Linked DNA regions of Homo sapiens: region 1 is linked to region 2. Evidence: fine-mapped expression QTL. A gene starts in region 2. The other region holds a variant in brackets. All regions are shown on one strand. Distances are between the middles of the regions. Region 1 overlaps SSU72 (SSU72 homolog, RNA polymerase II CTD phosphatase). Region 2 holds the start of LINC01409 (long intergenic non-protein coding RNA 1409).

What was found. PIP is the estimated chance that this variant, and not a neighbour inherited with it, causes the effect.
Region 1: its variant is fine-mapped to the expression of LINC01409 in uterus (GTEx, PIP 0.98).

The regions. Positions count from the first base shown.
Region 1 is chr1:1,557,800-1,568,354 of GRCh38, reverse strand. It overlaps SSU72 (SSU72 homolog, RNA polymerase II CTD phosphatase), which reads left to right. Exons shown (of 5, transcript NM_014188.3): 2 at 3,439-3,582. Among named protein-coding and RNA genes, the nearest start is that of SSU72, 12 kb to the left of the region's middle. The variant G/A (reference allele first, on the strand shown) is at 5,911.
Region 2 is chr1:772,978-783,532 of GRCh38, reverse strand. It overlaps LINC01409 (long intergenic non-protein coding RNA 1409), which reads right to left and starts at 4,735. Exons shown (of 6, transcript NR_187359.1): 1 at 4,441-4,735; 2 at 1,397-1,596. LOC100288069 (a long non-coding RNA gene) reads left to right here and starts at 4,899. Exons shown (of 20, transcript NR_168328.1): 1 at 4,899-5,249; 2 at 9,253-9,362; 3 at 10,426-10,555. RefSeq lists an enhancer at 4,613-5,182.

The sequences.
Region 1 (10,555 bases), 780 kb before region 2:
TCCCAAAGTGCTGGGATTACAAGCCCTCTGATAGATTTTTGGTACTTGTAAAGACAGTTGTTTGGCATACCAGACAAATACTTGTCTGGAAGATTAGTTTACAAAGGCGTTGGCCCTTCAGGCGAAGCCTGTTGGTGTCAGGAGTGTTTTCCAAGCTGTCCTTGCTTTTATGTAAGAAACGCTGTTGAGTCGCAAGCTGGCTGCCCTGTCGGTTGCATCAGTTTGGGAGAAATACTGCTTCTGTTGCTAAATAGCCTTTTTGCCATTCGTGAACCTTTTGTTGGGGGAAAAACAAACTGCATTTTGTTTTTAAATAGGCTAACTTAAAGGAACGTCCAGCAGGTGGTGAGTTCTTGTTGGTGTTGGGAGGCAGGCTGTCTCCTTTGGCTGCTGTGATCACGCTGATCCTGGGCTTCTTTGTGCGATTTTTTTTTTTTTTTTTGAAACAGAGTATCGCTCTGTTTCCCAGGCTGGAGTGCAATGGCGCGATCTCGGCTCACTGCAACCTCCGCTTCCGGGGTTCACGCAATTCTCCTGCCTCAGCCTCCCGAATAGCTGGGATTACAGGCGTGTGCCACCATGACTAATTTTTGTATTTTTAGTAGAGATAGGGTTTCACCATGTTGGCCAGGCTGTTGTCGAACTCCTGACCTCAAGTGAGCCACCGCGTCCGGCCCTTGTTTGTGCTTTGACGGAACATATTTTATTGTATGTTGTCTGAATTGGTAAGGAAGTCATTTTAGGCTTGTTGTTTCTCACGTGTGCTCCCTGTGGTATGCCTTGTGTCTGGGCCTCCGTCACCCTCTCAGTCACAACCAACAGTTGACTTTATTGCTTTAACCTCATGTTTCCGTCAGGATCTGTGGTTATGACTGAATGTCAGGAATTTTAATTTTAGCATTTTCACGTTTATTTCACAGTCCGGGTGCCGTGAACACGGGTTTGTAGTCATGAATCGCTGCTATTGTGCCACATTTCTGGCCGTGTGTGGTAGATGTTTGGAGAGCCGGGTTGTGTAGCTCGGAATATCTAGGGATGTAAGGACTGACGCAGCTGTCATCAGCCTCAGGGGACTCAGGTGTTTCACGTACACTAGATGAGCACATCTTCTCTGTGTGTGTGGGTGACGTGTGTGGTGGCGCAGCAGGGTGCCCTTGGGCTCTTTTGCTTCCTCTACTCATCTTCGGAGGTGCGCGTGGAGCCGCATGGCCTGTCCTGCCCCATGGATGGATTATTCTACTTGTCTGTTCTTTTGTGGCTGTGGAAGGCCGGCAGTGGGCATCCTGCAGGCAGCCATGTTGCAGAGGCACGTGTATGTCCGTAGGGCGGGTTTCTAGAAGCCAGTGTCTGTGAGAAAGGCACAGGTAGTTTTCACTTGCTGGGTGTTGCCCCATTATCCGCATAGAGACTGGTTACACTCCAGCAGCCCCCTCTGCCTGAGTTTTTCCTCTCTTGTGACACTGTTACTCATTCAACATTCAGTAATTTTTTTTTTTTTTTGAGACAGGGTCTCGCTCTTGTCGCCCAGGCTGGAGTGCAGTGGCGCGATCTCAGCTCACTGCAACCTCTGCCTCCCGGATTCAAGTCATTCTCCTGCCTCAGCCTCCCGAGTAGCTGGGACTATAAAAGCGCCCGCCGCCTCGCCCGCCTAATTTTTTGTATTTTTAGTAGAGATGGGGTTTCACCATGTTAGCCAGGCTGGTCTTGATCTCCTGACCTCATGATCTGCCCACCTCGGCCTCCCAAATTGCTGGAACTACAGGCGTGAGCCACCGCACCCGGCCTTACTTTTCTTTTTTTAAAATAATATGGAACTCCTCACGTGTCTGTGTGTCATTCTTGCTCAAGAGCGAAGCAGCAGCACTTTTCTGAACAAGAATGACAGGCCTGTAAGAGGAGTTTAGTGTTAATGGAAGTGTATGTGCGCCCTGCGCCCTGAGCCAGGCAGATTCCTTCAGATGCAAACCTTTTGTGATTTATAAATAAAGCTAGGTTGAGAAGTCTATATTTTTTAGGTAATTATAAGTATCAGTTGTGACTTTACAAGAACACATGTTCTATACCAAAGTAACTTTTTTTGTTGTTTTTTTGGGACAGAGTCTCGCTCTTTTGCCCAGGCTGGAGTGCAGTGGTGAGATCTCCAATGTCTGCAACTTGTGCCTGCTGGGTTCAAGCGATTCTCATGCTTCAGCCTCCCAAGTAGCTGGGATTACAGGCACGCACCACCATGCCCAGCTAATTTTTTTTTTTTTTTTAGTAGAAACGGAGCTGGGGTTTCGCCTCCTGGCCAGGCTAGTCTGAAACTCCCAGCCTCAGGTGATCCATTTGTCTCGGCCTCCCAAAGTGCCTGGATTGAAGGTGTGAGCCACCGCACTCGGTGCCAAAGTAACTTTTTTACATGTAACTTGTTGTGACAAACTTAAGTGTGCTTGTCAGCGATGACAGAAGAATTTTCTGGTCTTACCACACTCCATCAGTGTTTGGAGACGACCTCTCTTTCTCCTTGCGTGAACTAGAGCTCATTGGTGGCACATGACACACGTTTCCTGTTCAGCTCTTTTCTCCAGTTGATTAGGAAAAGTATTTGGTCAGTTTCCTCACCTGTGACTAGGAAGTCCAAGGAACAAGCACCGTCGGACCCATCGCGGCATCTGTTCTCTGCCTGCAGCAACCCTGAGCCTGTGGGACTCCTTTGGGTGTTGGGTCTCGGTTCCCATGGAGCCACATCGTGGGGGTGTTGGGAAACTGGGGGAGACAGAGTTTCCTGTGGTGGAGCGGGCAGTTGGACCTTTGTGAGTCCCTTAGGAATCCTGTGAACTTGGATCCTCCAAAGCCAGGACGTTGGTCGATGGCCAAAATGTTCTGATGAAATCTTCCCCAAGTCCACATCAGTCAGTCCTTTCAGTTTAAAGTAAAGCCTTAAACAAGCTATGATGTTCAGATGTGGCTTTGTGATGGTCAGTTCTGGTTTGATTGCTTTTGTGTAACTTGCTACAGCCTGTCGCCCAGGCTGGAGTGCAGTGGTGCTATCTCTGCTCACTGCAAGCTCCGCCTCCCGGGTTCACGCCATTCTCCTGCCTCAGCCTCCCGAGTAGCTGGGACTACAGGTGCCCGCCACCGCGCCCGGCTAATTTTTTGTATTTTTAGTAGAGACGGGTTTTCACCGTGTTAGCCAGGATGGTCTTGATCTCCTGCCTTCATGATCCGCCTGCCTTCATGATCCGCCTGCCTTCATGATCCGCCTGCCTTGGCCTCCCAAAGTGCTGGGATTACAGGCGCGAGCCACCATGCCCGGCCTAGATTAAAAATTTGAAGACATATTCTCTACTATGAGCCAATGAAATTACTCATTTTGTTTCTATCCCATTTGCTGTCCCTTGCTTTTGGAATTTTGTGTCTTAGTGTGACTGTGATTCTTTCTCTCCTTTTGTCTTTCAGCAAACGGGGATTCAGCGTCCGATCCTTTGGAACAGGGACTCACGTGAAGCTTCCAGGACCAGCTCCCGACAAGCCCAATGTTTATGATTTCAAAACCACATATGACCAGATGTACAATGATCTTCTTAGGAAAGACAAAGAACTGTATCCCAGCGGGTTGCCCTTTAAAAACCCCCCGTGTGGTCCTCCCTGGAAGGTGTTACGTGTGGCTCGGGCACAGGAGGCGTGTCACCCTGTGCAGTGCACACACTGGCTCCTCTGTCTTTGCGAGAGCTTGGTTTCTATTCCTGGTGCACGTCGGATCGTCCACGGGTTAGTTCCAGTGCCACCCATGGCAGTAGGCGTGGTGAGGCGCACAGACACGGTGTGGGGTTCACCCTGACGTGGTTCAGCAGAGGGTCGTGACATAGCGTAGACCAGGGATGCTTAGGTGAGGAGGTGGAACCCACAAAATCCCATTGCTTTTCACACTGCAGGGCTGCCCCGTTATTTCCTTTGCAGGTTGGTGTGCGTGCGTGTGTGCGTGCGTGCCTGATACACATGGAGCCGGGCTGCTTCACACATCTGGTGAGGTCGTTAGAAGGTCAGATAAAGAAGAGGGCGGAGCTTGCTAACCAAGCTGTTAGAAGAAATAATGGGAGAGAACATTCCTTCATTTCAGGAGGACACAGAGCAGGCTAGGTCTGCCGCGAAGACTCCTATAGAGAGAAGAGTATTCTTAAACTAGATTCTGATGGACGCAACACCAGTTGCATAATGGTTATGACAATCAGTGCCCGGGTTTTTGACCAGGCATTTCATGGTCACCCCCACGCTAATGGAAAGTTTCTGGATCTTATTTTGTTATAGTGAGTGATTTGTAGTTTTCAGAACGGAGGCCAGGCCAAACGTATTCCAAATGAAAAGAGAATAGGTGTCAAATGCTAAACCTTTTATCTTCGTGTTGGCACTGTTGCCATCCCCGCCCTCTCCCGACATCCCCGCCCTTGACCAGCATCTCTGGCCTTGCCCAGCATTGTCTATGTATTGGCACTCTTGCCATCCCCGCCCTTTCCCAGCAGAGTCTCACTGTGTCACCCCGGCTGGAGTGCAGTGGCGAGATCTTGGCTCACTGCAGACTCACTGCAACATCCACCTCCCGGGTTCCAGTGATTCTCCTGCTTCAGCCTCCTGGGTAGCTGGGATTACAGGCACGCGCCACCACACCTGGCTAATTTTTGTATTTTTAGTAGTCACAGGGTTTCACCATGTTGGCCAGGCTGGTCTTAAACTCCTGACTTCAGGTGATCCACCCTCCTCGTCCTCCCAAAGTGCTGGGATTACAGGCGTGAGCCACCATGCTCAGCCCTACTCTTGTATTTTTTTTTTTTTTTTTTTTTGAGATGGAGTCAGAGTCTCACCCTGTTGCCCAAGGTGGAGTGTAGCGGCTTGATCTCAGCTCACTGCAACCTCCCCCTCCCAAGTTCAAGCGATTCTCTGCCTCAGCCTCCCGAATAGCTGGGATTACAGGCATCCGCTGTCATGCCTGGCTAATTTTTGTATTTTTAGTAGAGACGGGGGTTTCACCATCTTGACCAAACTGGTCTTGAACTCTTGACCTCGTGATCCAGCTGCCTCGGCCTCTCAGAGTGTTGGGATTACAGGCGTGAGCCACCATGCCTGGCCTCTTGGAATATTTAATAAGCTAAAAAATTCTTATACACAGGTAGATTAATTAGGTAGCCAGGAGTGGCCCCTGAAAGTATGTCTGGCAAAACCTAGAACTGCATCCTAGCCATCACTGTACCTTCTGCCCTCCCTGCTGTCTCCTCTGCCAGTTACAGTTAAAAGGTTGTGGGTGAGGACGCTGGGCAGAGTCCCAGGCGTCTGCTGTCAGCTCCCCAGCCCGGCCTGCCTGCCGAGCCATCTGGGCGTCCCACGGTGGAGAGTGTGGTGCTTGTGACGCGGTGGTGCTGGGAGCCATCCTGGTGGCAGATGTGGGCTCTCACTGCAAGTCAGTGTAAGTCCCCAGGGACTGTCAGCAGCACGTCCTGCTGCCCCTCTCTCTGCAGAAGCCCTGGTAACCTGCGTTTGGAAAAATCTCTAAGGATTTCTGAGGAGCTGTCAGGCCATGTCCTTGTCCACCCTGTGTGGGGCACGGCTTCGACATGGCTCTGCTCCCGTCGTGGGCTGAGAAGGAGCAGGTGGGGCTGTGCCTTGGAAAGGAGGCCCTCCCGACATGCCTTTGTGCGAGGTCCCTGTCCATGCTGTCTCCATCCCGGAGCCTTACGGCGATGGGTGGCCACAGAGCCTATTCCAAGAGTCTGGTTTAGGGCTGGGTCTTCCCATCTTCACCTCTGAGTCTTAGGCGATGCGTGACCACGCAGCCCCTTCCAGGAGTCTGGTTTAGGGCTGGGTCTTCCCATCTTCACCTCTGAGTCTTAGGCGGTGCATGACCACGCAGCCCCTTCCCGGAGTCTGGTTTAGGGCTGC[G/A]TGCTCAAGAGTCTGGTTTGGGGCTGGGTCTTCCCATCGCCCTGGAGGAGGCTTTTGTCTCATCTCATGATTCACATTAAACTCTGTGCCATGAAGCTTAGCCTGACATCCTGTTTTTGACAATTACTCTTCAGTTAGCACTGTTTATTTTTAAGTTCTTGTATATTCAGTAAGAGAAAGAAAAGCAGAGAGTGACGCACATCCTCACACTCCCTTGATTGGTGTAAGCTCAGCCCCTTCATGTCAGCCCACTGTGACCTCCTGGGTTCCAGACCTGGGAAGTACTTGCCACGTTCTGCAAGGACTGAGTCCAGCTTCAGCAGTCTCATCCGGAAGGACTTGGTATAGGCAGAGGATGAGCCTGTCTCTGGTCATTCTAAAAGAAGGAGCTGAGCCCAGTGTCCCAGAATTCGGAAGCTCCTCCTTTACAGAGGGACTGTAGGGGTTGGTGATCTCCCAGGAAGCATCGGCCCAGAAGAACCCCGCGTGCGTGTGTGTGCTCTTGGTGTGTGGTGGGGGGAAGGAGTGGCAGCAGGGGTGGCGCTGGGACACTGTCAGCCACGGGCTCTGCTTTGGGGACCTCGTGTGGGAAAGGCATTGCCTGTGGTGGCCCCTCAGGAGGCTCTAGGAGGAGCGTGCCTTCATTACCTTATTTCACTCGGGGGGCGTCTTTGCCCCCTAGGTGGGGGCAGAAGGTGCAGAATGGGAAGCCTGCCACTTAGCTAAAGCTCTTGCACATGATGCCCTTGGCCTGGAGAGGAGTGAAGTCCCCAGGCAGTTCCCTGTGGACACTGGCACGATGCCGGGTGGGGCCTCAGGGGTGTTGAGATGTGCAGGTCGGGAGGACCCCGATAACGTTTCCTGGTTAGTGATGGGTGCAGGGGGGCCGCGGGAAGTGACTGTTACAAGTGAGAGCCCGAAAGCAAATCTGCCCCACAGCAGCCGGTGCGTTGGCAGAAGTCATCGCCGTAAACTGCAGTGGAAGCAAGACGGGGTTCAAGATGCGGCCCAAAGATAAGACGCAGCACTTGGTCGAGTGTTCACAGCGTCAAGACAAAGGACGGGCCGGCGCGGTGACTCAGGCCTGTAATCCCAGCACTTTGGGAGGCCGAGGTGGGTGGATCATGAGGTCAGAAGTTAGAGACCAGCCTGGCCAACATAGTGAAACCCCATTTCTACTAAAAATACAAAAATTAGCCGGGCATGGTGGTGCACGCCTGTAGTCCCAGCTACTTGGGAGGCTGAGGCAGGAGAGTTGCTTGAACCTGGGAGGCAGAGCCTGCAGTGAGCCGAGATCGCGCTACGGCACTCCAGCCTGGGTGACAGAGTGAGACTCTGTCTCAAAAAAATAAAAAAGGAAGGACAGTGTGACTTGGGAGGAAAATGCTGCTTGTTCAGAGGCAGGGCCGGGGTCGAGGGGGACCCCACCACTGCCATCTGCCTACTTGCCATGTGGCCAGGGCTTAGGTTTCTCTGTGCATGCCCACCTCGCAGAATTTCTGATAATTAAATAAATTAGGACATGCACACACTGAGCCCGAGACAGTGTTTTAAAGCCTTCAATAAATTTTGGCCAGTTGTCCTATTAGTATTGAAATACTTAATTTATTATTATTATTTTTTTAGATATGGGTCTTGCTGTGTTATCCAGGTTTGTCTCGAACTCCTGGCCTCAAGTGATCCTCACATGTTGGCCTTCCAGAGTACTTGGATTAGAGGCGTGAGCCACTATTCTCAGCTTTCATTTCTTAAATACAAAATCTCCTTGACTTTCTGTGAGGTTGCCTGCTGGTAACCCCATGCTAAAGTGAAAAAATCCTGCATTGAGCCATAATAAGTTAGAGACTGTATTTGGCTCTAGATGGCTGATTTTGGTCTTTTCCCCCACAAGCCAGAAGTGAGCCTGAGGGGTTGAGGGACTTGCTGCCTGTGCCTCTGAAACCTCCCTTGGGGATTGTCAGGGTACGAGTCTAGGTTTGCAGCACTGGGATGCGAGCCTTCGGTAAAGTTAGACGAGCCACGCCTGCAGTTCCAGCCTGGGGAGACCGAGGCAGGAGGCTCAGTTGAGCCCAGGAGCCGGAGGCCAGCCTGGGCAGCATAGCAAGCCTCTATCTCTACAAAAAACACACAGATGTGGTGGGTGTGGTGGCACAGCTACTCGGGAAGCTGAGGCAGGAGGCTTCACTGAGCTGTGATTGCGCCATTGTGCTCCAGCCTGAGGAAGAGAACAAGACTCTTGTTAAAAAAGTTTCATCCACATTTTCTTTTGGGAATTAATAGTATACATACATGGGGCTGGATGCAGTGGCTCACACCTGTAATCCCAATACTGGGAGACCGAGGCAGGTGGATCACCCGAGTTGAGTTTGAGACCAACCTGGCCAACAGGGTAAAACCCTGTCTCTACTAAAAGTACAAAACGCTAGGCATGGTGGCACATGCCTGTAATCCCAGCACTTTGGGAGGCCGAGGTGGGCGGATCACCCAAGGTCGAGAGTTTGGGAGCAGCCTGACCAAAATGGAGAAACCCCCGTCTCTACTAAAAATAAAAAATTAGCCGGCCATCGTGGTGCATGCCTGATCCTAGCTACTCATGAGGCTGAGGCAGGAGAATCACTTGAACCTGGGAGATGGAGGTTGCCGTGAGCCGAAGTTGCACCATTGCACTCCAGCCTGGGCAACCAGAATGAAACTGTCTCCAAAAATAAAATACAAAAAGTAGCTGGGTGTGGTGGCGTGTGCCTGTAATCCCAGCTGCTCAGGTGGCTGAGGCGGGAGGGTCACTTGAACCCAGGAGGCAGAGGCTGCAGCGAGCTGAGATTGTGCTGTTGGACTCCAGCCAGGGTAGTAATAATAGTAGTAGTGTATATACCTGGACCAGGGACGGGGATCTAAGCTCCCCTGACCTTTGTAGACAAATGGGAACTCTACTGTGTAGGTTCTTTCCTTGGGTGGACTGACCGTTTTATCAAGAATTGTTTTTATTGAGATAAAATGTACAAATCATGCACTTCCCTGAGTCGCGTGTCCAGTTCTGTGGGTTTCAGGACATTCATGGAGTTGCAGCCGTCACCACAATTGGTTTTGAGACGCTTTTCGTCTCCCAAGGCCGTTTGCTGCTGCCCATTCTCCTCCCAGTGCCTGTAGCAGCTTCCCGTGCTACAGGTCCGCCCGTTCCACACCGTCCAGTTTAGCTGCTTCCCGTGCTACAGGTCTGCTCATTCCACACTGTCCAGTTCATATGCAGCCTTTTGTTCTTTCGCTGAGCATGCGTGGAACTATTTCTAAGTCCCAGGTTTCTTTGCCATGACTTTTCCTCGCTCAGCCTCAGTGGCACGTGGAGTAGAGCAGCTTTGCGCTGGGTGTCCTGCCGAGGGGCTTGAGCCTGGCTCCCAGGGTCACGTGCAGAGGCTTCTCTATTTTTTTTCATTTTACACTGAAGCCACTTTCCATAGTTGAGCTTTCTTGCAGGATTTTTTCATTTTTGATTGAAAGGAGTCTGGTTAAGCCATCCCAAGCTTGCTTGGAGTGCCTTTGGGGAGAAGACAAGTGACTTCTGTTTCTAAGTTAGTGAATGGCCAGTCTGACCTAGTGAAGTGTCACTCAGCCCAGTGAGGGGGTCCAGGCAACAGCCGCTGGCCCAGAGGGTAGAGGAGGAGGGAGAGGCCGTTGTGAAAGGAGGGCTGGGGTGGCAGACACCGGCCTGGACAGTTCCCCCGCTCCAGGGAAGCCCATTCAGCCACATGAGAAGGTGTGTGGGAGTCTCACAGGATCCTACAGAAAGTTCATCCTGTGTACATGTAAGTTAGTGAAGGTTTACCAGCTTTTTGTGTTATGAACTGCAAAACCACTTGTCTTCAAAAGCAAGTAAACGTGTAGCTCTAAATGTTAATGTGACTGTTGTCCTGTGAAACGCAAGTGCATCTGACACTTTCCTGGGTCTCGTCTGGCCGTGCAGCTGGAGACCAAGCCTGTGTCTGGCATATACTGTTTGTACCTCTCTTGTGGATTTTTTTCTAATTACCTAATTTTTTCTAATGACGTTTGGGGTTTGGATTATTATTATTATTTGGTTTTGAGACAGGGCGTCTCTCTGTCGTGTGGGCTGCAATGCAGTGGTGCTGTCACAGCTCACTGCAGCCTGGGCATCCCAGACTCAGGTGGGTGATCCTGCCACGTCACCCTCCCCAGTAGCTGGGACCAGAGGCCTATGCCATGCCCAGCTTTTTTTTTTTTTTTTAATTGAGACAGAGTCTCACTCTGTTGCCCAGGCTGGAGTGCAATGGCACGATCTTGGCTCACTGCAACCTCCGACCCTGGGTTCAAGCGATTTTCCTGCCTCAGCCTCCCGAGTAGCTGGGATTTCAGGCATGTGCCACCACGCCTGGCTAATTTTTGTACTTTTAGTAGAGATGGGGTTTCACCATGTTGGCCAGGCTGGTCCTGACCTCATGTGATGAGCCCGCCTTGGCCTCCCAAAGCTCTGGGATTATAGGGGTTGCCACTGCACCTGGCCTGTGTTTTAAATTGCACATTTGTTCATGTCCGTCCTCTGAATTCATTGTCTTTTAGGTTAACTTCTGTGTGTGGCCACTTCCCTGTGGACATTTCCTTGTCTCAGAGTAAAATGTGGTAGACTTCTTTT
Region 2 (10,555 bases):
CTTGCTTAGGTTTAAAATTTCCAATATTTATCACAAAATAAGCATGTAGGATCAAGTTTTTAGAGTAGAATTTTGCAGGTAATTTTAAATCTCAAGCCCTATGAAGGTTACTAAAAAAAAAAAAAATTCCTAAAATAGAAACATTAAAAAGGAGAAATAAGATATTTACTTCACAAAATTACTCCTTTGGGGTCTTGCAGTATGAGATATATGAGTTACTGCTCAGAATACATAGACTGTCCACCTATCCTGTGCACTGGGATGATCACTACCACTTCTTCAAATCCAGCTAAAAGCATCACAGCCTCAATGAAGCCTACTCCAGGCCAGAACTGTTCACGTGCCTCCTCTCTGCTCATGTCCTATATATTACCTAAGCAGAGCTCACCAACAATATTTTTCATCAACAGCTTAGAGCAGCGCTGCCAAATAAAAATACCATGTCGGTCATGTAAGTAATTTAAAATTTTCTTAGTAGCCACTTTTAAAATAGGAAAAAGGTGAAATCAGTCAATTTTATTTAACCTGATACATCCAAAATATTATCACTGCAGTATACAATCAATATAAAAAATTATGGAGATTTTCTTTTCCATGCTCAGTCTTAGAAATCTGTGGCATATTTTATGTTTGCAGAACATCACAATTCAGACTACCCACATTTCAAAGATTAATAGCCACATGTGGCTACAGGCTGCTGTACTATTTAATAAAAAGTGCATATCTAGAGTCTAGCCCCTTGCTTTATAAAGTGTGATCTACCATCCAGCAGCATCAGCATCACCTGGGATCTTGTTAGAAATGTAGAAAGGCAGCCCATCTCAGAACTACTAGAAGAAATAAATTTAACAGGATACCCAGGATTGGAATGCATAGCAAAGACTGAGAAGCAGTAAATTAGATCACATATAGCTTGGGAGTCTTACAGAATTGCTATTGCCATTCAACTATGATATGGTATTATCCCACTGACTAATATAGAACACTGTATTTAAATAACAATAGTTTTTCTATGAATCATGTTTTCTCTACACTGTCCAATGCAATTTTCTACAATGATGAAAATCTTCATATATGTGCTGCACAAAATGGCAGCCACTTGCCACATGTGGCTGTTGAGCACTTGAAATGTATCTGGAGCAAATGAGAAATTGCATTTTAATTTAATTAATTTTAATTGATTTAAACATGTGGCAAATGACTATCATACTACATAGCACAACTCCAGGGGAATTGGTTACTATGTCACAGTGTCATCTCTAGGAGAATCCTTAGGACAAATTTGGAAAGTTCTAGTCAAGATAATCTTTCGATTAACTGTACTTCTTCTGTTTTTTTGATTTTATGAAGTCATATTTACCATCTTACACTGGCTAAGGGCAAATTTGCATCTTACCTCTAAGGAAGCATAATGAAAGTTACAACACGTGCTTTGTGTGTATTAATATTATTCCAGCTTATCATCAATTAAAAATACCAATATCTAGACCTGTACAGGCTTTTTAATTCTCTGAGAAGGACCTGGATACTCTGGAGAATACAAATCTGTGAGGAATAATGAGTTGATTAATGTCAACTTTCCCAATCCAGATTTGCCTAAAAGAAATAAGGGAAAATATCTGTTAAACTCACCCACTTTACTCAACCTTAAATATTCAACAGATACTGTAATTGAACTTGCTTTATGCAAGTATTTCTTGGTGAGACAATGAAATGACATTAGAAAATATGCTACAAAGAATAAGTATCTTGTCCTCAGTTTCTTAGCTATCAAATTAAACTCACGTTTCCAAGGATTCTTTTCAGCCTTCTAATTATACCACTTATATTCATTAAAAGTAATGTATCTAATAATTACATTTTTAACAGTAATGTATTCCCAAAGAAAAAAAGTCAGTCATTATTTAAAAATCCAAGTTGGATTATATATCACTGCTTCAGTGAAATAAAGTTTTTCTTTATTAATAGACAATAATGAATGAATAATAAACAAGAAATCATGCAGCTATAAAAAGCAAAAATCTGCTAATACAAAGAATAATTAATCACAATGAACATCTCTGTATAAAATTCTAAATCACAAAAAATACTTTCTAATTTTGCCGCCCATCAGCCTAAATATAAGGGTGCTTCTCCACAAACCAGAATCCAAAAAATCTTAGGTAATTACTTTTTCTACCACTTCTACTCAAGGTAGGAGGTAGACACGAAGGAAGCTAGGGCATGATTTCTACTCTGACCACATACTCTTTTTTGACTCTCCGTGTTTAGTCCAATATACATAGTCCAGTGTATAGTAATTATTACAAGTATACCAAAATATAAATGGCTTCAAGGTATATATAACCTAAGGTTAAAACAAATTATAAATCAGATTATGATAATTAACATGGCACAGAGTTAAAGTATTTATTGTTAATAACTCACTTAGCATAATAGGCATGTTTAGCCTAAGTAACTGGTGTCATAATATTTTTATGCCTAGGAGGAATTCTTTTTATATTAGCTCTCAAAAGAGATAAGATTCTCTCCACGTGGTTTGGGCTTACCCCTTTGACTGAGAGCATGCCACTTTTTACTAGAGGTTGATGTATGACTCAACTTAGAGTTGAGGATGAAAAGTGGGGATCATAGCACCTGCCTATACCCTGGTACAGATCATATGACGTTGATTTATTTATTTGTGGAGTCAGGGTCTCGCTGTGTTGCCCAGGCTGGAGTGCAGTGGTACGATCATGGCTCACTGCAGCCTTGAACTCCTGGGTGTGGTGGTGCACACCTGTAGTCCCAGCAACTCTGGCAGGCTGAGGCAGGAGAATCGCTTGAACTCAGGAGGTGGAGGTTGCAGTGAGCCGAGATTACGCGACTACACTCCAGCCTGGAGACAAAGTAAGACTCCATCTCAGGAAAAAAAAATTTTAAATTAAAAAGTTCTAGTATCTAAAATGAGCAAAATCGCCAGGCGCGGTGGGTCACACTTGTAATCCCAGCACTTTGGGATGCAGAAGTGGGTGGACCATCCGAAGTCAGAGGTTGAGACCAGCCTGCAGTGAGCCGAGATTGCACCACTGCACTCCAGCCTGGGAGACAGAGTGAGACTCCATTTCAAAAAAAGAATTAGCCAAGCGTGGTAGCATGCACCTGTAGTCCTAGCTACCGGGGAGGCTGACGGGGAAGGATTCCTTGAGCCCGAAGGTCAAGGCTGCAGTGAGCCTTGTTTGCACCACCTCACTCCAACCTGGGCAAGACCCCATCTCAAAAAAGAAAAAAAACCCACAAAAACAAAAAACAAAACAGAACAGAACAGCATCACTTCCTTATCATTAGTTTGAAGGAAGTGAATTGCCTGTAAAAGTTTCCATTTTCAAAAAAAGTGTTAAAATATAGTGTAAAGCCAGGCACGATGGCTCATTCCTGTAATCTCAGCACTTTGGGAGGCTGAAATGGATTGCCCCTGGAGGTCGAGGCTGCAGCTGAGCGATTCTCCCGCCTAAGCCCGGCAAGTTGCGGAGACTACAAGCGCGTGCCACCATGTCCAGCTAATTTTTTGTATTTTTGTAGAGAAAGGGTTCCACCATGTTGCCCAAACTAGTCTGGAATTCCTGAGCTCAAGTGATCCACCCACTTCCGCCTCCGCCTCCCAAAATGCTGGGATTAAAGGCGTGAGCCACCGGGCCTGGCCCAATTACTTTCTTCAGTCTGAGCATGAGTGCTGGAAGAAAAGCTCTCACTTGCATATAATTTTTTAGAGACAGAGTCTCCCTCTGTTACACAGGCTGGAGTGCAATGGCGCAATCTCAGCGCATTGTAACATCAACCTCCAGTGCTCGATCGCTTATATAATCTCAGCTCACTGTAATCTCAACCTCCCGGGCTCGATCGCATATATATACACACATATATTTGTTTGTTTAGACGGAGTCTTGGTCTGTTGCCCAGGCTGGAGTGCAGTGGCGCGATCTCCGCTCACTGCAACCTCCGCATCCCGGGTTCAAACAATTCTCTGCCTCAGCCTCCCGAGTAGCTGGGATTACAGGCACCTGCCACCACGCCCGACTAATTTTTGTGTTTTTAGTAGAGACGGGGTTTCAGTGAAACCATGCTGGCCAGGCTGGTCTTGAACTCCTGTCCTCGTGATCCACCCGCCTCGACCTCCCAAAGTGCTGGGATTACAGGTGTGGGCCACCTCGCCCAGCCGACTGCTTATATTTTTAAAAAGATGTTTTCTTCATTTCCTAGCCCCTTCTACCCCGCTACAAGTTTCAAAGACTTAATGCTATTACAAAGGACCGTCAGAGGTCAAGCTCAGGGGTGCAACTCCCTCATGCCGGGCAGCCTCAGGGGGCCGACCCTACCCAGGATGAGCGGCGCCAGGTAGCCGGGGACGCTCCCGGGGATCCCCGGGCCCTGGCTGGGGGAGGCGTTGTGGAGCGCACGTACCCAGGCTCAGATGAGGCGAGTGGGCGGCCGGGGCTGCAGCTGGCGCTGGCCATTGAGGAGCTTCTGCGCGACAGTGCGATCGGTTGCACCTTCTGCGACAGGTGCCGGCCGGTTGGCGCGCAGCGCCTGCTAGCGCAGAGTCTGGCCCTTGCTGCGCCCGGCGCCGAAGACCGGGAAGTCGTAAAGCTCCTCCTCGTGGCTTATGTGCGGCGGCGGCCGGGCAGAAGCCTAGCGACACAGAACTGCCAGCTCAGCAGCCGGTTACATCCCGCCCGGCCACCAGTAGGCAGCGTCCGCTCATGCGCGCTCCTGGAAGAACCAGCAGCCCCCACCGCGAGTTCTGATTGGCTCTGCGTGAGTGGTAGTCCCCTGTGACGTCACAAGGGTGCGCCTTCCGTGACGTCACAAGGGCGGGTCTTCGCCGACACCATAGAGGTGGGCCGTTGGCGACGTTAGAGGCGCGGGTGTTCGGCTACATCACTGGGGCGCCATGGTGCCTGGAGCTGGGCAGTTTTCTCATCAGAGTGGGGACTGGTAAGAGTGACCTCCCCGCCAGGTTCTGTGTGTTGCCGGCTGAAGAAGGGTAGCTGAAAAATTCAGACCCAGCACAGTGTTTATGTTGGTCAAAAATAGAAAACTATGTCTGGCGCGGCCGAGGCGGGAGGACCCTTCAGGCCAAGAGCAGCCTAGCAACATGGCGCAACCCCATCTCTGTAGTCCTACCTCAGCCCCCCAGCTACTTGAACCCAAAGGTTCAAGGCTCCAGTGAGCTATGATCCCACCACAGCATTCCAGCCTGCGAGATTGAGGTAAACCCTGTCTAAAAAAATTTAAAAAACTATCCAGGTGTGCAACAGGGAGGGACTGCTAAATAAAACATGAGGCTGGCTGGGCCCTACTGTAATCCCAGCACTTTGGGAGGCCGAGGCGGGAGGATGGATGGCTTGGGCTCAGGAGTTCGAGACCAGCCTGGGCAACATGACGAAACCCCGTCTCTACAAAAGATACAAAAATTAGCCGGGCGCGGTGGACACCTGGCCTAATTTTTGTATTTTTTTCTAGAGATGGGGTCGGGGGGTGCCTCGCTATGTTGCCCGGGCCAGTTTCGAACTCCTGAGTTGAAGCAATCTTCTCACCTTGGCCATCAGAGTTGTCGGGATTACAGGCGTGAGGGACAGCGACCCACCTGGGTTAGGCTACTTAATAACATAAAGTGCTCCGCCAGGCTCAGTGGCTGACACCTGTAATCCCAACACTTTGGGAGGCCGAGGCGGGTGGATCACCTGAGGTCAGGAGTTGGAGACCAGCCTGGCCATGGTGAAACCCAGTCTCTACAAAAAATACAAAAATTAGCTGGCCGTGGTGGCGCATGCCTGTAGTCCCAGCTACCTGGGAGGCTGATAAAGGAGAATTACTTGAACCCGGGAGGCAGAGGTTGCACTGGGCCAAGATCACACCACTGCACCCCAGCCTGGGCGACACAGCGAGACTCCAAAGTTTGACACCAGCCTGGGCAATGTAGTGACACCCTGTCTCTACAAAACAAACAAACAAAAACCCAGGCATAACTGTGTCCACCTGTGGCCCTAGCTAGTTAGGAGACTGAGGCAGGAGGATCACTTGAGGCCAGGAGCTCAAGGCTGCAGTGAGCTATGATAATCCCACTGCTTCCCATCCTGAGCAATAGAATGAAAGCATGTCTCTAGATAGATAGCTAGCTAGATAATTGATACGTAGTTTTGTATCAAATTTTTTCCCTAGATTTGAGCATGTTTTTCTAAAGTAGCATTCAACACATCAGCATTTTACAGTGTTATTATTTGTTAATATGATTATGTTTTTCTGAAATACAGTGTCCTTTACAAAAGCAGTTTTGTCTTTCAAAGCGCATAGATAAGGCCCTCAAGTAAATTTGTCTGATGTTGCCGACCTTGGTACCATTTTGTCCACTTGATTGAAAAGCCAGTCAATAATTTCAGGTCACTGTTGGCCTTAGAAGAAGAGCCCAAAGGCAACAAGCAAAGGCGCTGGTGTCCAGTCGCCTTCTAGAAGCATTTTCACTTTCCCTTAAGGTTTCCCTTGATGAACATAGAAGTACTGTATGTAGAATTGACCCAGTGCTGCCCTGGCAACTTTGTATATTAGGCCAAATTTACATTTCTTAGCTTTATGAGAGGCACCCTGGTAGGCTAGTGGAGTTACACACAAAGTCTGATCTCAGCTGCACTGTCCAGAAATGCAACACGGTCCAATCAAATAACATTCTCTGAGCCTGTTTCTTTAGCTGTGAAAGAAGAATAACATACCCATCTAAAAAGGCAGCTTATTGTATTTGATTGGTCTTTTATTTTCTATGAAACTGTGTTTAACACAGTAATTATTTTCATTTGTGTACTACATTTGTGTTGTGTTTTTGGTTTTAGTTTTGTTTTTGAAATGGAGTCTTTTTTTTAGTGGTTTTTTGTTTTGTTTTGTTTTGTTTTGTTTTTGAGATGGAGTCTTTCTATTGTCACCCAGGCTAGAGTGCAGTGGCGTGATCTCCGCTCACTGCAACCTCCACCTCCCAGGTTCAAGTGGTTCTCCTGCCTCAGCCTCCTGAGAAGCTGGGATTACAGGTGCCCACCACCATGCCCAGCTAATTTTTAAAATATATTTTTAGTAGAGATGGGGTTACAACATGTTGCCCAGGCTGGTCTCAAACTACTGACGTCAAGTGATCCACCCGCTTTGGCTTCCCAAAGTGCTGGGATTATAGGCATGAGCCACCGCGCCTGGCTTGTTTTAAAATAAGGGTTTCTTGGCTAGGCATGGTGGCTCACACCTGTAATCCCAGCACTTTGGGAGGCCAAGGTCAGTGGATCACCTGAGGTCAGGAGTTCGAGACCAGCCTGACCAATATGGAGAAACCCTGTCTCAACTGAAAATACAAAATTAGCCAGGCGTGGTGGTGCATGCCTGTAATCCCAGCTACTCAGGAGGCTGAGGAAGGAGAATTGCTTGAACCCAGGGGGCAGAGATTGCAGTGAGCTGAGATCGCACCATTGCACTCCAGCCTGGGCAATGAGCAAAACTCTGTCTCAAAATAAAAAAAAGATTTCTTAAAATGATATTTTCAGTATTTTATAGATGATGTGTAAGCAGCAAGCTTAATAGGATGTTACCCGACACTTTGCGAGACTGGCAGCTGATTTGATCCAGATGTCTCTAATTCTTTTTTCTTTTTCTTTTTCTGTTTTTTTTTTTTTTTTTTTTGACAGAGCCTTGCTCCGTCCCCCATGCTGGAGTGCAGTGGCAAGATCTCGGCTCACTGCAACCTCCACCTCCCGGGTTCAAGCGATTCTCCTGCCTCAGGCTCCCGAGTAGCTGGGATTACAGGCGCGCGCCACCATGCCCAGCTAATTTTTTGTATTTTTGGTAGAGACAGCATTTCACCATGTTGGCCAGGCTGGTCTCGAACTCCTGACCTTAGGTGATCTGCCTGCCTCGGCTTCCCAAAGTGTTAGGATTACAGGCGTCAGCCACTGTGCCTGGCCCAGATGTCTCTAATTCTAACATGAGATGTATTGCAGGATCATAGCAGAGTGAGTTGCTGATGTATCCAGAAGGAAATGAGCATGGAACACTCACGACAGCTGTCCTGAGAAGTGTGTGTGTGCTGTGCTTGAATATCTCACTGCTCATTTATACACAGGCTTTCTGGTGACTGAGTTAACAGTACCTGTTTCATAAATAATGTAGCCCTCTTTCTTTCTTTCTCTCTCTCTCTCTTTTTTTTTTTTTTTTGAGACAGGGTCTTGCTCTGCTACCCAGGCTGGAGTGCAATGGTGCAGTCTCAGCTCACCGCAACTTCACGCCTGGCTAATTTTTTCTTTTTTTTTTTTTTTGAGACGGAGTTTCGCTGTTTTTGCCCAGGCTGGAGTGCAATGGCACAATCTCGGCTCACCACAATCTTTGCCTTTTGGGTTCAAGGGATTCTCCTGCCTCAGCCTCCCGAGTAGCTGGGATTACAGGCATGTGCCACCACACCTGGCTAATGTTGTAGTTTTAGTAGAGACGGGGTTTCCCTATGTTGGTTAGGCTGGTCTCAAACTCCTGACCTCAGGTGATCTACCCACCTCGGCCTCTCAAAGTGCTGGGATCACAGGCATGAGCCATCACTCCTGGCCTAATTTTTGTATTTTTAGTAGAGAGAGGGTTTCACTCTGTTGGCCAGGCTGGTCTTGAATTCCTGACCTCAAGTTATCTGCCTGCCTCGGCCTCCCAAACTGTTGGAATTATAGGCGTGAACCACCATGCCTGGCCAGCTCTATTTCTTTAAGCCTACATGTTTTGCAAGTATTTGAACATACAATTACTCAGCTTCCCTTGTTTACGCGTGAATTTTGTAGAATCTTAAATATTTTTTCCAATCTAAGCTTTATTTTATCCCGTTTCTTCTATATTTGTATAACTTTAGGCGGCTATCTTCATTGAAAGTTTTTTCTCAAAAGCCTTAAGATAGAACATAGTTCTTGGCAGCAATTTGAAAGTTATTTGAGGAGAAGGGGAGACTTACAATGATGATTCAAATGAAGGAAACTAAAAAGTAATGAAGCAAGGCAGAGGAAAAAGCAGTACTCACTTGAGCACATCCCAAAAGAATAACATTTCAAATGTAACTAGAAAAAAGTATGCTGAAGTTCGCAATACAGAAATAATTATTAATAAGATAGCTTTAAAGCCCTGCTCAGCTTTTGAATGTTGGGAATTGACCCAGAGGTGGCTGTAACCTAAGATGGTTCCTTCAGTAATGACCATTTTTTCTTTTTCAAGATGATGATTATTCCCCACCTTCTAAGAGACAAAGACCAACGAGCCACCACAGCCACCAGTCCCAGAACCCGCCAATGCTGGGGAACGGAAAATGAGGGAGTTCAACTCTGGTAAGTTCTCAGCGAAATCCATGACCTTTTCCTTTATCTTCTGGACTCTCAATGTGACTGATGAAAGTTACCACATGCTCTGCAGGGGGAAATGGTTTAGCATGTGTTACTACATCTTAATCACATCTTTGTAAAGCCAGGAGCATTTTACAAGTCACGTTACAGACATTGTTTAAACATAGTCTGTATTTACCAAAGTATAGGACATTGTATCATCTCATATTAATTAGTTAGTTGGCTCAAAATTAGTGCTAATGACTTAGTAATTCAGTGATTTCTGTTAGCTTTAAAACCTTTATTTCAGAACTATTTCACCTCTTGGTTTTCATTTTTGCGGTGTGTCACTGCCTGCCGGCTGCTAATTTATTAACTCCCAGTGAATCATGTCCTGTGAAGGGACTGAATATTAGTGGCAATTTATGTTGATGATTTGTATTTTGAATAAACAGTTTGAATACATAGAACATTAAGCTTGTATACATTTTGAAAATAGTATTTTAATATTCTACTGTGTCATAGTTACAATGATTGGATATATATTGAATTTATATGTACTTTAAGTTGTTATATGTTTATGGTCTTTAGCATTCTAACGTGCAATTGTATATCTGTTAAGCCTTTTTTTTTTCGAGATTAGACTGATTTATTGAGGCGTCTGTTTGATGCCACATTAAGTGGCCCAGGCTTTGTGTAGGGGTTGAGGTAAAAGCAGGAAGAAGGGTGGTGAGAGGCGGGGCACCAGGGTTAGGTTGGAATACCTGGGGGTGCTCTGAGGCTCCCCAAGTTTCCCTGGTCTTGGCCGGCTGTGCTGCTGGCCTGGGCATCTGATGGGCCTGCAAGGGTGGTCCAGGGGCTAGGGCAGGGACTTTGGAGTCACGCCGTTGGCTTTGAATCCAGACTCCTACACTTGGTAGCTGTGAACTCTCCATGCCTCAGGGACCTGCAGAACTGAGCTCTGTCTGAGCCAGGTTCCATCCAGGCACTGCGCATCCATCCAGAGGGGCACTGCCTCAGGCTGCTCGCTGTTCACTGCCTTCTCAAGCAGACCCTTGTCTCCTTCTAGGCCCTCACAATCCAGTGGAGGAGACGCAACTCATCTGCCTCTGTCCCTCTGGGCACGCCTCATGCCAGGTGCATCTGTGGACAGGGGCCATGCTCCTGGGCTTCCAAAGTTGGAGAAAGCTGCCAGGCTC